Regions from separate parts of the Homo sapiens genome. Here region 2 is linked to region 1. Evidence: fine-mapped expression QTL. Tissue or cell type: whole blood. Region 1 holds a variant in brackets; the other region holds the start of a gene. All regions are shown on one strand. Distances are from middle to middle.

Region 1 (8,105 bases):
TAATGGTACTCCGTGCAGCAGATGGAGATGAAACACTCATTTTCTCCTTAAATGCCACATAGGTCGTCTCTAGAAGGACCTAGAAGAGTGACATCTGTCTCTATTTTTGGAATGCTTACATGTCCACAAAATTCAGGAGGTTTCAAATTCCACCAAATCCAACAGCCTTGCAGAAATGTGCAACAGAGTATCAGTGTCACTACATAGCTGGGAGAAGGAAGGGTTTGATTGCTGGTCTATATTGACTTTTCTGTCCAAACATTGGTCTCTTGGGGGAAAGGTTTTTTTTTTTTGTTATTATACAATTTATTTTTCCTCTGCCACAGAAATTGACACAAGATAATTCATATACTCCAAGGATCCAGATATAATGCATATCACATTACTGCAATAGTCTTCAGTTTCTTTTTTCTTTTCTTCTTTTTTTAAATAAGTACTGGAGAAATTTAATTGAGTCATATTTGGCTTCTTGTTGGGGTTTTCTATTGCCCAGTGATAGAAGAAACTGTAACTATACAGGACTAAATTCCCAGATAATATCCACTGATGTTCTCTACTGGCCAGCTTAGAAGAATCCTAGGGCTGAATGTTTGAACAGTTTGCACATATTCTAACTCCAGCTGAATAGAATGATGATGATTGGGTTCTTGTGTTTACAATAAATACAAGTAGCCAAGCGTGGTGGTTTGCACCTATAATCCCAGCTACTCCAGAAGCTGAGGTGGGAGGATCACTTGAGTCCAGCAGTTCAAGACCAGCCTGGACAACACAGTGAGACCCCTGTCTCTAATAAATAAAATAAATAAATAATACAGTTCTTCCTTTTACCCTTTACAAATGGTTCTGGGTCTAAGATTAAAGCACAAGAACAACCAGTATTGAGTTAAAAGAATTTAAAACATTTTTATCATACTAATGGCTGCACATCAGTACAGAGAATAGTCACCTATCCCAAACCTTCCTACCATCCAGAATGGGAGGTGGGGTTGGCAGGGGCCAAACTGTTTACAGATTTCCCATTAATCCCTCTTTTTATCCCTATAGCTCTTTTCTTTTCTTTCTTTCCTTTTTTTTTTTTTTTTGTCAGAGATAGGGTCTCACTATGTTGTCCACGCTGGATTTCAACTTCTGGCCTTAAGTGATCCTCCCACCTCAGCCTCCCAAGTAGCTGGGACTACAGGCCCACACCACTGTGCCTGGCTGGTGTTTCAGAGTCCCCAGTCTCTGAGGTCTGCAGGACAGATCAGTCCCCTTCTCTCTGTATCTCAGTCTAGATTTTAGCAGAGGCAAACCCTAAGGGTTTGGGAGAGGTGATGGAGTGAAGCAGAGAGAATACAGAACTATGTTCTAGTTCCTGCCCTGCTCCTGACTTGACCTTGGGAAAGCCATGTCACCTCTCTGGGCCTTTTACCCCCATCTGGCCTAACAAGACTCCTGGCCTCGGTGACAGAAGCGTCCCATCCTCTCACCCACCCCTAAGCAGAGCAGCTGGGACTTTTCAGAAATGAGCCACAAGACTCCTTATGGCAGAAAGCCTTGGGGACCCAGAAGAACATAGAAGGCTTCCAGGAGGGAGATATGCTGTGCAGCCTGAAGTCATAAACAGCCATTCTGCAGCTGTTAAAGGGCCATGAACATGGCATGCTCTATTGTGATGGATGGCAGGCCTTGGCCAGAAGAGGCTGAATCCAGATGGGACCACGGGCAAAGCTGTGGAAGGGACTGTGTGATCACTCTTCTCTTTAAGGAGTATCTTCAGCCTGACAATAAACACACTGTCTCCCTAGGGGTTAGGTTTCGTGGGCCAAGAGCATGGTGGACGCACCACACATGTACCTGGGGTTTCTGGGGTTAGAGAAGACACAAGAAACTAAATCCAGAGTTAGCAGCTTGCGCCCGGGCTCAAATCTCAGTTTGTTTCATGGATTGGTTCCCTTTGAGCTGACTCAGAAATGCGATTATTGATTAGTGCAGAAAGTTTATTAGAGAGCCTTTGAGAATCAAGTCCTATGGGGAAAGGGAAGCAGGGGTGGGAAGAGGGAGAAGTCAGTCTGTGCTGCAGTCATGGGAGGCTTTGGCAGACCCCCAGGGGAGTTCTGAAACTAGGATAGCTGCTGAGTTGGCCTGAGTTGGAGTAAATGGGCCAAGTCTTTTCATCCCTGCACTGACCTGCCATGGAGCTTGGAGGGCAGCTCTCTTTAGACAAAGACAATTCCTCAAGAGGGCTGACAGCTGAGATCTGTCAACCTACCACCCACCCGGTAGGCGGGGAATAGTCCTTCAGTCCTGACCGAGGCAGTGTAGTGCAGCATTTGCAATAGTGCCCACATGGTGCTGTGCCTCTCATTTGCTACTTAAGTTTGGAGAGCAGCACTTTCAGGACCCTGGGGAATCTTTTCCTGTGGGAAACATATAGAGGAGGGTTAGTGGGAACTACAGCTCCTGCCGCCGCTACAGCTCATCTAGAGGCATAACGAACATACCCTTCAGTCCCCTCTTCTATCCATCCTAGAAACCTCTTCCCTTCTGCCAGCACCTCAGATGATCTAGGTGGCCTGCGTGATGGGGTGGTCTAGACCTCCATCCTTAGAGAGCCTGAGCACCTAGTTGCTGTGCACTTCTCAGGCAGTGGTTGCTGCATTTGTCCATTTACTGTCCAAATAGGGCAAAGGAGTACTAAGAGACACCTAAATAGATCACGTGGGTGCCCAATGTTCCTCCCTGCCCTGATGTGAAGTCTCAGCCTGATTCCTTCCCGGTAATTGAATACTCTTGTCTGCTTTCTCCCCCTGGTATACCATCCCATTTACTGCCTGTAAAAAATTAGCCATCTTAGAGTTTCCCTCTGCCAGAGGCTAGCTATGCTCCTCCTGTACCAGGGATGGGCACCTCATTATTACCTGGGTATTAGGTGATCCATCCTAGCATCTACTCTTTGGAAGAAGGAATAAAGCAGGGTCCGGGCGTGGTGGCTCATGCCTGTAATCCCAGCACTTTGGGAGGCTGAGGCGGGCAGATTACCTGAGGTCAGGAGTTTGAGACCAGCCTGGTCAACATGGTGAAACCCCTGTCTGTACTAAAAATACAAAAATTAGCTGGGCATGGTGGTGGGTGCCTGTAATCCCAGCTACTCAGGAGGCTGAGGCACGAGAATTGCTTGAACCTGGGCAGTGGAGGTTGCAGTAAGCCGAGATCACTCCACTGCACTCCATCCTAGGCAACAGAGTGAGACTCTCTCTGAAAAAAAAAAAAAAAAAAAAGGAATGAAGCAGGACAGGGCAGAGGGAAAAGTAAGGCTGCAGTGGACCACGTGGGGAGTTCTGAACCTGGGATGGCCCTGCATTGACCAGTCACCAGATGCTAGTTAATCTAGGAAGGTGAGAT[C/A]TTGGGCAAGGCGTTCTTTCCAGCCAGTAGTAGTAGTGAGGGTGGGAAGTGTAAGTCTTTCAGCCCTGAAGGGGGATCTGGGCAGCACAGCACCCAGGACAGTTTGTATCCTGCAGTTCCACCAATCAGTGTGACCTTGGCTTACTTGGCTTGGTGGAGTGTAGAGACCTCCGCTTTAAAGACACTTTTTAGCCTGGGGTGGAGGGAAGACTAAGGGGAGGCCAGGCACTGATATGCTCCATCACAGAACCATATATGCTGATGGGCTCTATTCCCACAAACTCTTACCCTTCCCCTGCTGGTAGGAAGATGGAGGAAAAAGATGTATTTTATGATAGAATTAAGTTGGTATCTATGTAGACCCCTGCCAGACTGTTTGGAAGAGGAAAGGTGACCTGTCACAAGAAGTCACCCACAGGAGACTTGAGGTGGAGAATAGCCCTTTGTACTGGTCTCTACGACACAGGTTTTATCTAATGAGAAATCTGTCCTGGCGCTCACGCCTGTAATCCCAGCACTTTGGGAGGCCAAGGCGGGTGGATCACCCTGAGCTCAGGAGTTGGAGACCAGTCTGGCCAACATGGCAAAACCCTGTCTCTACTAAAAATACAAAAATTAGCTGGGCGTGGTGACACAGGCTTGTGGTCCCAGCTACTCTGGTGGCTGAGGTGGAAGGATCGCTTGGGCCTGGAAGGCGGAGGTTGCAGTGAGCTGAGATTTTGTCACTGCACTCCAGCCTGGGTGACAGAATGAGACCCCATCTCAAAAAAAAAAAAAAAAAAAAGGAACCTAAAGAGGAATCTGCCCTGGCTTATTGTCTGTGTAGAGCCACAGAAACAACAGAATAAGCTTGGACATAACCAGATCTACCATGGAAATCTTTGCACAGTGCCTGACACCTAATAGGTGGTTAATGACTGTTTGTTGAAGGGATGGGGCAAGGTGCTTAGCCTCTCAGTTTCATCAGACCGGGGATAACACCAGGGCCTACCTCATTAGGTTTTCTCTTTCTTCTAGAATTTACTAACTCATTTATTCATTTTTATTTTTTGAGACAGGATCTTGCTCCATCACCCAGGCTGGAAGGTGGTGACTCAATCATAGCTCACTGCAGCCTTGAATCCTGGGCTCAAGTGATCCTCCCATCTCAGCCTCCTGAGTAGCTAGGACTACAGATGTGCACCACCATGCCCAGCTAATTTTTAAATTTTTTTTATAGAGAAAGGGTCTCACTATGTTGCCCAGGCTGATCTCAAACTCCTGGGCTCAAGCAGTCCTCCTGCCTCAGTCTCCTGAGTACCTAGGATTACAGGTGTTAGACACCACACCTGGCCTAGAATTTATTTTTAATAATTTATATTTTCCTAAAATTGTCCACTTCATCTGTTTTTTAAGTACAGGTTTCAAGAGGATAGAGCCTGTGTTTCTGTGTTTGTCTTGCTTACTGTTGTGTCCCCAGTATCAGTAAATGACAGAACAGCTCCCTGTAAATACTTGTTGTATGAGTGAATGTGTGTGGGAGGAAGAATTATCTTGGAAAAAAGAAGGAAGCATTAATAGTGCCTCTCCTAATAGTGACTCATTTTTTTTTAGGCCACCCTGGGGCCTTTTCTTATTCAAAACATTCATGAAAAAAAGTGCAGTTCCAAAGCATTGGAGCTACTGATGTAACAATTTTTTTAAAATACCATTATTAGAAGTGCAGCGGGGGATTCTCTGATCTTCTAGGTATTCTGTGATCTCCTGTGATCTTCTGGCTGTGATCTTCCTCTGCAGACCACCTCACATCTTTGAGACACCCTCCTCTGTGCCTTCTCCCCCTCCCTATTTCTTAGGTTCACCAAGAATGAATGAAGAAGCCAAGCGCGGTGGCTCATGCCTGTAATCCCAGCACTTTGGGAGGCTGAGGCGGGCAGATCGCTTGAGCCCATAGTGCAACAGTTGTGTTGAGCCTGAGCAACATAGTGAGACCCCCACCCCCTGCCCGTCTCTTAAAAAAAGAAAAAGAAAAGAAGGAATGAAGAAACCACCGTGGGTCAGGCACGGTGCTAACCTCTGCAGAAGTTTCCATACAGTACAATGGTGTGCAATGCCCACGCCACGTTTTGCAGGGTCCACGGGAAGCCTTGCGGCGACCTCACTGCCGCCCAATTTCTGGGCAGTGGCGGCGCAGCGCCCCCTGGCGGCCATCCCGAGGGCAGTGCCCGCGGGCAAGGTTCGAAACTGTTGGCATTGGGACTGACTCCAGCCTCTGCTCCGGGAGGCCCTCCCGGGCTGCCTGACCTCCCGGGACCATGCAGAAGGCCTCCCACAAAAACAAAAAAGGTAACTGGGGAGAAGGAAGCGGGTGAAGAAGCCCTGGGGACCAAGCCTTCGTCAATGTTCCTCCTCTGTAAAATGGCAACGGTGCACTCTTGGCCTGGGAGATAACCTCTCTCCATCGTTGTTGTTATCATCATCATCATTATCATCATCATCATCATCATCATCATCATCATCATCATCATCATCATCATTTGAGAAGGAGTCTTGCTTTGTCCCCCAGGCTGGAGTGCAGTGGCGCGATCTCAGCTCACTGCAACCTCTGCCTCCCAGGCTCAAGTGATTCCTCTGCCTTAGCCTCCCGAGTAGCTGGGATTACAGGTGCCTGCCACCATGCCCAGCTAATTTTTTATTTTTAGTAGAGATGGGATTTCACCATGTTGGCCAGGCTGGTCTCAAACTCCTGACCTCAAGTGATCCGCCCGCCTTGGCCATCGTTATTTTTATCAAGGTATAATTTCCATGCAGTAAGATCCCCCCTTTTAAAAGTACAGCTACCGTTTTGACAAGCTATACCCACGTTGAACCACCCCCTCCATCAAGATAGGGAACAGTTCCACCACTCCCTAAAATTACTTTGCAATGCCCAGTTGCAGCCAAACCCCACCCCACTGCAGCTCCTCACACCCCCATCTGTTTTTTACAGCGTTTTTTTTTTTTTGCCTTTTCCATGGAGAACATCATAAAAATGAAATCACATAGTAAGGAGCCTTTAAAAAATTATACCAATGTAAATAGGGACTTTGGCCCTTTCATTTTTATTAAAAGGGCACATAAATCTTAAAATAGCATATGGGTCACTGTATTTTATTTTTAGAGACAGAGTCTTGTTCTGTCGCTCAGGCTGGAGTGCAGTGGTATGCTCCTGGCTCACTGCAGCCTCCAATTCTTGGGCTCAAGCAATCCTCCTGCATCAGCCTCCCATAGCTGGGACTGTAGGCATGCACCACCACATTCAGCTAATTTTTTTTTTTTTTTTGAGACAGAGTCTTGCTCTGTGACCCAGGCTAGAGTGCAGCGGCATGATCTTGGCTTACTGCAACCCCCGCCTTCCAGGCGGGTTCAAGCGATTCTTGCCCCTCAGCCTCCAGAGTAGCTTGGATTACAGGCGTGAACCACCACGCCTGGCTGATTTTTGTGTTTTCAGTAGCAACGGTGTTTCACCATGCTGGCCAGGCTGGTCTCGAACTCCTGACCCCAAGTGATCCGCCCACCCTCGGCCTCCCAAAGTGCTGGGATTACAGGTGTGAGCCACCATGCCCAGCCTAAATAGAAGAGATGAGGTGTCACTATGTTGCCCAGGCTCTAATCACTTTATACTTCTGCTAGCCCCCAGGTGGGCTTACTGAAGGATGCAGACTCCTGCACTGAGCAATTCTTGTTCTTTATGGCTTTTTTCCGCACAGCATCAGGATTTGATAAGACTTGAGGTTGGCAAAGAGGCTGAACTAGGCAGGCAGGTGCCAGACAGCCTTAGGCTTTTTCACTGCAGGGCTGTTGTCATTTGGACTGCTTGTCCTTGGGAAGGTTGACATTGCTGTCTGACTAGCCTTGTAGCAAAACCTGTAAGTCTTTCATATTTTAGTCTGGTGCTTGGGGTCTGGCTCTCCGAGGACCATAGTGCTGCCTCCTCCACCTGGTTGTCCCCAAACACAGCAGCTCACTCTTTTCTGAGCTCACCCTTTTCCAGGGAGGAAGCATTGAAGATCTCACTTTCAACAGCAGTAGGATCATCTTTGTCAGTACCTTCGGGTTCCAGGGTCCCTGCCACTGGGCCCTAGCGAGCACTTTCCTCAGGTTTCATGTCTAATAGTTCATCCTGAGCATGCACTGTGTGAAGAGCCTTTGCCTAAAACACATAAAATACCTTTTCCATCTTCAGTGTTTTCCTTGTCGTGGTTTTCATCCTCTAATGAAATTAATTGACTCAGCTCCTGCACTGTTACATCTGTGCTTTCCTGCTGGGTGAGCTTCTTTTCTTCTTTCTCAACTAGTTTTTTCAGAGGGTTTTGTAAGTGCTTTAAAGTAGTGACTTCATATGGCTGATAACCTGTGAAGCTCTCATGGATGGCTGCCATAGTGTGAGAAGTCTTCTCTCCAAAATGAAGCAGAGTGGTCTGGTATGTTGCTAGCATTTGAGACAGGAGATTGCATGTATTTACTTGCTCCAAGAAAATCTACATCCAACTTCACTTTGTCAAGGTTTTTTTCTCTCTCTTTTTTTTTTTTTTTTTTTTTTTTTGAGATGGAGTCTTGCTCTGTCACCCAGGCTTGTAGCTGGGATTACAGGCATGCACCAACATGCCCAGATAATTTTTTTTTGTTTTTGAGACAGAGTCTCGCCCTGTCACCCAGGCTGGAGTACAATGGCGCCATCTCAGCTCACTGCAACCTCTGCC
Region 2 (8,105 bases), 200 kb before region 1:
ATCCTTTCTCCCCTGCCTGGCCACGGACATTTCCCAGCATCCCTTGCAGCTAGGTAAGGTCATGTGACTGCATTCTGGCCAATGAAAGAGCACAAATAACTTGTACCATTTCTGAGCCCGTCCAGCAGCCCATTTTCCATACCCTGGTTGGCTTCCTCTCCACTGTGATCCTGCCCAGAACAGATTGGTAGCATTTCAGTATCACTTACAAAGCACTTGCTACATAACTCCTCCCAGCTCCCTAGAAGGCAGGCACTCCTTCCTCCTCGGGCTCTGAACATGCTATGCCCTCTGTCTGGTACACACCCCAGCCTGTCCTCCCTACTCATCCCCTGGCCAACTTGACTGCTCATCCCTCAGGTCTCAGCTTAGATATCACCTCCTTCATGAAGCCTCCCCTGAACCCCAGGAGTTAGTCGCTCTTAGCTTCATTCTACAGATGAGAAAACTAAGGAACAGAGAGGTTATGTGACTTATCCCAAATCACATGACTAGAGTTGGGTTTGAAGCTGGTGCGGGCTGAATCCAGAGCTTTCAATGCAGTCATCACTTCCTTAACCAGCGCTTCTAAAAGTATGGGACCAGCTGCCGCAGCAGCCACTGCAGCAGCCTCACCTGGCAACTTGCTGGTAATGCAAATTCTCAAGCCTCACTACAGACCTACTAAATTAAACTCTGGGGATGGGTCCAGCAATCAAAGTGTAAGCAAGTCCTGCTGGGGATGCTGATGTGCACTGAAGTTAGAGAAACGCTGGCCTAGGGCAATTTTCCGCAGTTTAGCCACCTACTTCCGGGTGCTTCCTCTGGCTTGCTAGTCCTTGCTAGAGCTCGAAAGCTTCACAGCTGGAGAACAGAACGCCATCCACCTTCTGACTCTGGAGCCATTTGAGACGCTTCTCTAGGAGTCCCACAGCCCTGGGACTTTGGGGGTTGTGGGGAGCACTGTTATTTTCTGCTTTATCATCAGCGTGTTAGTGACTCACTCCTTCCTTTGTCTGAAGCCTTCTTATATGGTTGGGCACGGCTCATGCCTGTGATCCTAACACTTTGGGAGGCCCAGACAGAAGAATCGCTTGAGCCCAGAGTTCAAGCCCAGCCTGGGCAACAGAGTGAGACCCCATCTCTACACTAAAATTAAAAGTTAGCCAGCCATGGTGGTAGCTCATGTCTGTAGTCCCAGCTACTTGGGAGGCTGAGGCAGGAGGATCACTTGAGCCGAGGAGTTCCAGGCTGCAGTGAGCTGTGACTGTGCCACTGCACCGCAGCCTGGGTGACAGAGCAAGACCCTGTCTCAAAACAACAACAAAAAAGAAGCCTCCTTGCTTGTGCTCATCAGCCTTGGCTGCAAGAATTTGATCCAGCAACACTTTAAGGCCCAAGCCGCTTTCATCCCAGGTGGAGACAAGGTCATCGCTCTAACCACCTTCTAGGAGCCTTCTCAGTTCATCAGGGTAATAACCTGCAGCTTTCAGGTCAGCAGAACCAATCTCCCTCAACAAAAAACACTGATTCTTTTAAATTAGTTCAACCTGCCGCTATTACTTTGTCTATAGCCCTGATCATTCAGTTGTTCTGCTTCAGGTGTAAGAACTGGACCAGAAATAGTGAATCCCGGAGAACGAGCTTGAACAAGTCCAAGCTTCTGCTGTTCACCCTTGGCTTTCTTCACACAGCTCCCAGAGTCCCGGCAACCAGACGACAACCCTGCCAAAAACTGGACAAGACTGCTTTGGGGACTCTCCCCACAGCAAGATAACAACCCTAAAGACATCCTTCCCGGGTGGGCATGGTGGCTCATGCCTGTAATCCCAGCACTTTGGGAGGCGGGTGGATCACTTGAGGTCAGGAGTTTGAGACCAGCCTGGCCAACACAGTGAAATCCCATCTCTACTAAAAATACAAAAATTAGCTGGGCACGGTGGCATGTGCCTGTAGTCCCAGCTCATACTCAAGAGGCTGAGGCAGGAAAATCACTTGAATCTGGGAGGCAGAGGTTGCAGTGAGCTGAGATCACACTACTGCACTCCAGCCTGGGCAACAGAGCAAGACTCCATCTCAAAAACAACAAACACTCCCTCTGGCTTGTGGCTCTGCCCTCCTCTAGGCCTTCAAAGTCGCCTTGACTTGTCCAACAAATAAGGAAAGAGTGAGAGGTTTTTAGGGTCGAGGCTTGAAATGGACACACTCACATTTCATCAGCCAAAACTCAGCCGTGTGGCCCTACCGAATGGTAAGGAAGCCTAGGAAAATTCATCCAGGGAGCACCCCAGGAGGACGAGAACATGGGTACTGGTGACCCATAGCTTTCTCTGCCACATAATACAGTAAAATGTTTTAAAAGCAAATCAGAGATTTTTTTTTTTTTAAATAGAGACCGGGTTTCACCCCGTCAGCCAGGCTGGTCTTGAACTCCTGGGGTCAAGCAATCCTCCCGCCTCAGCACCCCCAAAGTGGCTGGGATTACAGGTGTGAGCTACCACACCCAGCCAGTGATATATCCGTAATCAGCCAAAAAGTACTGTACAGTTACAAAAAGCACAAGAAAAACAAATTGGTGGATCTTTTTTATTTTTTGAGACAGAGTCTCGCTTTGTTGCCCAGTCTAGAGTGCAGTGGTGCAATCTCAGCTCCCTGCAAACTATACCTCCTGGGTTCAAACGATTCTCGATTCTCCTGCCTCAGCCTCCCGAGTAGCTGGGATTACAGGCTCATGCCAACATGCCCAGCTAATTTTTGTATTTTTAGTAGAGATGGGGGCTCCCTATGTTGGCCAGGCTGGTCTCAAACTCCTGACCTCAAGTGATCCACCTTCCTCAGTCTCCCAAAGTACTGAGATTAAAGGCCTGAGCCACCACGCCCCTGGCCCAAAACACCGGTAGCTCTTGGAATGTACACCGATGATTATGTGTAAACTGTGACCACTTCAGTTCTGTCTTCTGGCCTCCCCATTCCCTGCAGAGGATAAGAACTTCGGACCCCACCCCCTTCTTTGAGAATGGGGGCTGAGAGGAGGGCGGACGCCAATCCCAGCCATGTTACACTGAAATTCATGTCCTTGAGAGGTTTTACTGTAGTTGTTGAATTAATAGCTGAACAAAGGAATGAACATCGGGTGCTGTGGAGGCCACACAGAAGGAAGACACCTGCATACGCCATCTCTGAACTCTACCTCCTTCCACCTGCCTCTTCCCCAGCTCAGCTTAAACAGCACTTGCTACAGGAAGCCTTCCCCCATAACCCTCTCCCCTTTACACACACAGTGGGCATTCTCAGCTCCCACCTGCTTGCTCTGTATTCCCATTTACTCCATCTCGCTTTTTAGAATCTGTTTATGTGACTGGCTTCCTCTTAGGGAGCTTCTGTGGGCCTGGGGATCACTCTGACCCTCGGTTTCCTCCTCGCTAAAAACATTAGGATAGACTACGTGACTCAATTCGCTGTGACTTCACAGCCTGTCCAGGGCCCTCAACCACAGGGCTCTTGGCCATCAGATGTCTCCCGGGGCCATAGACTATGACACTGTGTGCCAGGCACTGTTCCAAGCACCTGACATATACATACTCATCTACTCTTTCCAAGGATACTAAGTGGTAGATACTAATACTGTACCCATTTTACCGATGAGAAAACCGAGGGCCAGAGAGCATAAATGAGCTAGAATTCCAACCCAGGACTCCAGCCCTAGTGTTTCCTGCTTTCCTGGCTGAAGAAGCACCCACCACCGAGGTCCCAGAGGTCGGGCTCCCTGGGACCGTCCCCCTGGGCAGATCTCACTTCCCCATGCGGCCCATCTGTCACACTCAGGGCGCAGCTGGGCTGGTTCCCCGAAATCCCCCAGGCGCGCGCAAAAGGATCTAGGCCGGGGCTTACCCGGGAGGCCCCCACCCCCGCGCGGCCACCGGCTTATTAATGCCCAGCCCCTTGGCACACATGTCAGCAGCGCCTGCCAACAAACTCCCGCAGCCAACAATGCAGCAAGGGCGCGTCTATACAGTCCTGGAGGTTCCGGGAATTCGGGCTGACGCAGGCCTCTAGTTCAGGGGAAAGGTGGGGGATGCGGCTCTGAGCCCTGCAGGGGACAGGAAGGCAGCGATGCGCCCACACTCTAGGGGCCCCGAGGGGGGAGGCCCCCAAACTCTCTGTCACTTGCAGCCAGATCACCGCCCATTGCTTGCCAATTGCTTTCCATATCCACATCGCCTTTAATCCGCACAACTTCCCCATTTCTCCAAAGCAAGCACTTAGCCCCAGAGAGTTTAACAACCAGAGGAGAAGCGCCCCCACACTCTCCTTCCATGCCTTCTCCGGCCCCATTCCCAAGCCCAGACCCAGCACGCTCCAGACGCCAGCTGCACCCGGGCGCACAGGCCTGCAGCGCGGGCTCCCAGCCCCCCACAGCCTTGCCGGCCGCGGTCCACACCTACCTCCCTCGGGCAGACAGGCGCGGCAGCCGCTGCCCACGGCCGCGAGGGTCCAGAGGAGTTGGCAGAGGCTCGCGGCCCGGAGCTCCAGGGTGCAGGGCGGGCGGGCCCCCCGAGAGTGCCGGGGAGCGGAGAGCGGGGAGCGCTAGCTGGCGCTCCGGGCAAGCAGCTGGGGCCACGCGGGGTAGATGGACCGATCCCAGGGCGCGCGGGGCAGTCGGAGTGATCCCAGGAAGGGCGCAGGGGCCGTTGGGACGATCCCGGGATGTGGGAGCGCGTGCCAGGGGGGACTCGCGTGCAGGCGACAGCGAGCGGGACTCGGGTGGCTGCAGGGCCGGGAGTGCGGGCGCTCGATCCAGGAAGGAGGGGAGCTGAGGCTGAAGCTGGGGCTGGTCTAGGTTGAGCAGAAGCGGGCGGGCAGGGGCGGGGCTGGCCTGGCGGGCGCACGGCGTGGCGCTCACGTGGCCGCCCCCAGGTGGCCATCACAGCGCCTGCAGCCGCCTAGCGGGCCTCCTGGCTCCGGCGCTGGCTCCCAGCCCCAGGTGCAATGGTTAGCGCTAAGTCTTGGCTCCCCCTGCTGAGTACACAGTGTCCGGTTCTCCTGCTCAAGGCTGGCCTAGCATCCGGCAGCGAGGGGGCAATTCGAGGGAGTGACCAACTTCCGTCCTCTCCCGCCGCGCCTCGCCATTCTCGCCTGCTTCTCGCTTAGTTCCTGTATTCCTGTCCTTTCCAAAATCATTAGTGATCCAAGCCCATCGCTTGTTTGTATGTATCTCTATCCATAACCTTAAAATATTTTTTATCGGAAATACTTTGTTTTTCCTGATTTCTGCTTTGTAAAAACAGGCACGTATGACGATTGCAATTATTTGTGTAGTTTTAAAATTAGTATCTCCTTTAGTTATTCCTAACTCTTGACACAGGGCCTGGGTGGCACACAGTAGATGCTTAATAAATACCTGTGGCATGAGTGGTAGAGTGGCTAAGGTATAAAAAAGAAAACGAATTAAAACTAATAGCTACTGTGAACACTTTAATATTAGGTCCTTCCAGATACTTTGTTAGTGAAATTTTAGAAATTTCACACATTCTAGATAGAAAAGTAGTAACAATGACATGTTTTGAGGGATTTCTCTCATTCCATCTTCCCAGCACTTTGGGAGGCCGAGGCCGGCAGATCACCTGAGGTCAGGAGTTCGAGACCAGCCTGGCCAAAACGGTAAAACCCTGTCTTTAGTAAAAATACAAAAAAGCAGCCGGGCGCGCCTGTAGTCCCAGCTACTCTGGAGGCTGAGGCACGAGAATCGCTTGAACCCTGGAGGCAGAGGTTGCAGTGAGCCGAGATCGCGCCACTACACTCCAGCCTGGGTGAAGGAATGAGACTCCGTCGCAAAAAAACAAAAACAAAAAAATAAAAAAGAAAAAAGAACAAAACTGAGGCTTATAGAGATAATGACATGCCCCAGGTGAGGCAGCTAGAAAAGGCAGAGCCAGCAGTAAATCCAGACTTCTCTGATTTCAAAGTTCAGGCTCTCCAAAGAACTTTTTTCCTTATTTATAAACCCCAAAGAGAGTAAACTCCAGCTTTTGGCAAGACAAAATTGCACCTGGAATTCTGACCCTGGGGCCGTCAGGCAGGAAGGGAAGATCAAAGATGCTGAACTAGTCTGTCCAAGCCCAAAGCAAGATTGGAAAAAAAAAAAAGACGCTACTGCTTAAAGCTCTATGGCCCTTGGGCAAGTTATTTTACTTCTCTGAGCCTCTGTCATTTTTGTCTGCCCAGCAGGAGTGTCCTTCTTTGCATTAGCGTCTTGGTTAGTCTTCAGGGAACCAGTTCACCCTATTTCAGTTCAGGAAAATAGCCCTCCCCACTCCCCTGGCTCCAAAAATGGACACATGACCAGACCTGGCCAATTAGCATATTTCATCCCTTCAGCCTCATTGATTGGTTCAGGGATGAGCATGTGATCCAAGTTAGGCCAGTGAAATACTAATCTGGGCCTTTTATAGTAACCATAAAAAGAGAATGTCTCTTTTCCAGGGAGTTGAGCAGATAGGATGTAATAGTAGAGTTTCTGAGCATTAATTCTTATGGCAAATTTTATTAAGCTCCTATTGTGTGCCAAATATGGTGCTAGGAATTGGGGGAAACATTTGCCTTCAAGGAGATGTCTACTGCGGTAAAATAAAATTACTCAAGGCCGGGCAAGGTGGCTCACACATGTAATGTCAGAGCTTTGGGAGGCCAAGGCAGGAGGATCAATGGGGCCAGGAGTTCAAAACCATCCTGGGCAACATAGCAAGACCCCTGTCTCTAAAATAAAACATTAAAAAAAAAAAAAACCCAGGTATGGTGGTGTGTGCCTGTAGTCTCAGATACTCAGGAGGCTGAGGCAGGAGGATCCCTTGGGCCCAGCAGTTTGAAACTGCAGTGAGCTATGATCATGCAGTGCACTTCAGCCTGGGCAACAGAGTGAGACCCTGTCTGTAAAAATTAAATAAATAAATGAAAAAGGCCAGGCTCAGTGGCTCATGCCTGTGATCACAATACTTTGGGAGGCAGGCAGATTGCTGGAGCTCAGGAATTTGAGACCAGCCTGGGCAACATAGCGAAACCTCATCTTTATAAAAAAATACAAAAATTAGCCAGATGTGGTGGCTTGCATCTATGGTCCCAGCTACTCAGGAGGCTGAGGTGGGAAGAACACTTGGACCTGGGAGGCAGAGTTTGCAGTGAGCCAAGATCCCGCCACTACACTCTAGCCTGAGGGACAGAGTAAGACCTTCTCTCAAAATACAATAACAAAAACAAACCACAAACAAAAAAGAAAGTGAAAAGACAATCAGAGAATGGGGAAAAAATATTTGCAAATCATATCTGATAAGGGATTTGCAGCTAGAATATATAAAGAATTGTTACAACTCAATAATAAAAGATAAATACTCCAATTTAAACATGGGCCAAAGATTGGAATAGACATTTCTCCAAAGAAGATATACAAATGGCCAATAAGGACATGAAAAGGTGCTCAACGTCATTAGCCACTAAGAAAATGCAAGGCCAGGCATGGTGGCTCATGCCTGTAATCCTAGCACTTTGGGAGGCCAAGGTGGGATGATGGTGTGAGCCCAAGAGCTCCAGATCAGCAAAGGCAACATAACAAGACCCTCATCTCTACAAAAAAACAAAATAGAAAAATTAGCCAGGCTCGGTGATGTGTGCCTGTAGTCCCAGCTACTCGACAGGCTGAGGTGGGAGGATAGCTTGAGCCCAGGAGTTGGAGGCTGCCGTGAGCTATGATTGCACCACTGCACTCCAGCGTGGGTGACCAAAAAAAGCAAGTCAAAACACACCCACTACCCACTAGCATGACTATAATCAAAATCTCAGATAATAGCAAGTGTTGGCAAGGATGTGGAGAAACTAGAACCCTCATACACTGCTGGTAGGAATGGAAAGCAGTTTGGCAATTCTTAAAAAAAATTAAACATGAAGTTACCGTATAACCCAGCAATTCAAATCCTAGCAGAAATGAAAACATATGTCCACACAAAAACTTATACAAAATGTTCATGGGAATATTATTCATAATAGGCAAAAGGTGAAAACAATCCAAATGACTGATGAATGCATAATTAAAATGCAGTAGGCCAGGCGGTGGCTTATGCCTGTAATCCCAGCAC

The links. PIP is the estimated chance that this variant, and not a neighbour inherited with it, causes the effect.
Region 2: EEF2K starts here. The variant in region 1 is fine-mapped to the expression of EEF2K in whole blood (INTERVAL, PIP above 0.99).

What each region holds. Positions count from the first base shown.
Region 1 is chr16:21,998,621-22,006,725 of GRCh38, reverse strand. PDZD9 (PDZ domain containing 9) reads left to right here and starts at 5,610. Exons shown (of 4, transcript NM_001363519.1): 1 at 5,610-5,709. The coding sequence starts at 5,679. It also overlaps the pseudogene LOC100420536. RefSeq lists an enhancer at 5,415-5,464. The variant C/A (reference allele first, on the strand shown) is at 3,385.
Region 2 is chr16:22,202,999-22,211,103 of GRCh38, reverse strand. It overlaps EEF2K (eukaryotic elongation factor 2 kinase), which reads right to left and starts at 4,826. Exons shown (of 18, transcript NM_013302.5): 1 at 4,425-4,826. RefSeq lists an enhancer at 664-1,164 and silencers at 4,326-4,595, 4,756-5,055.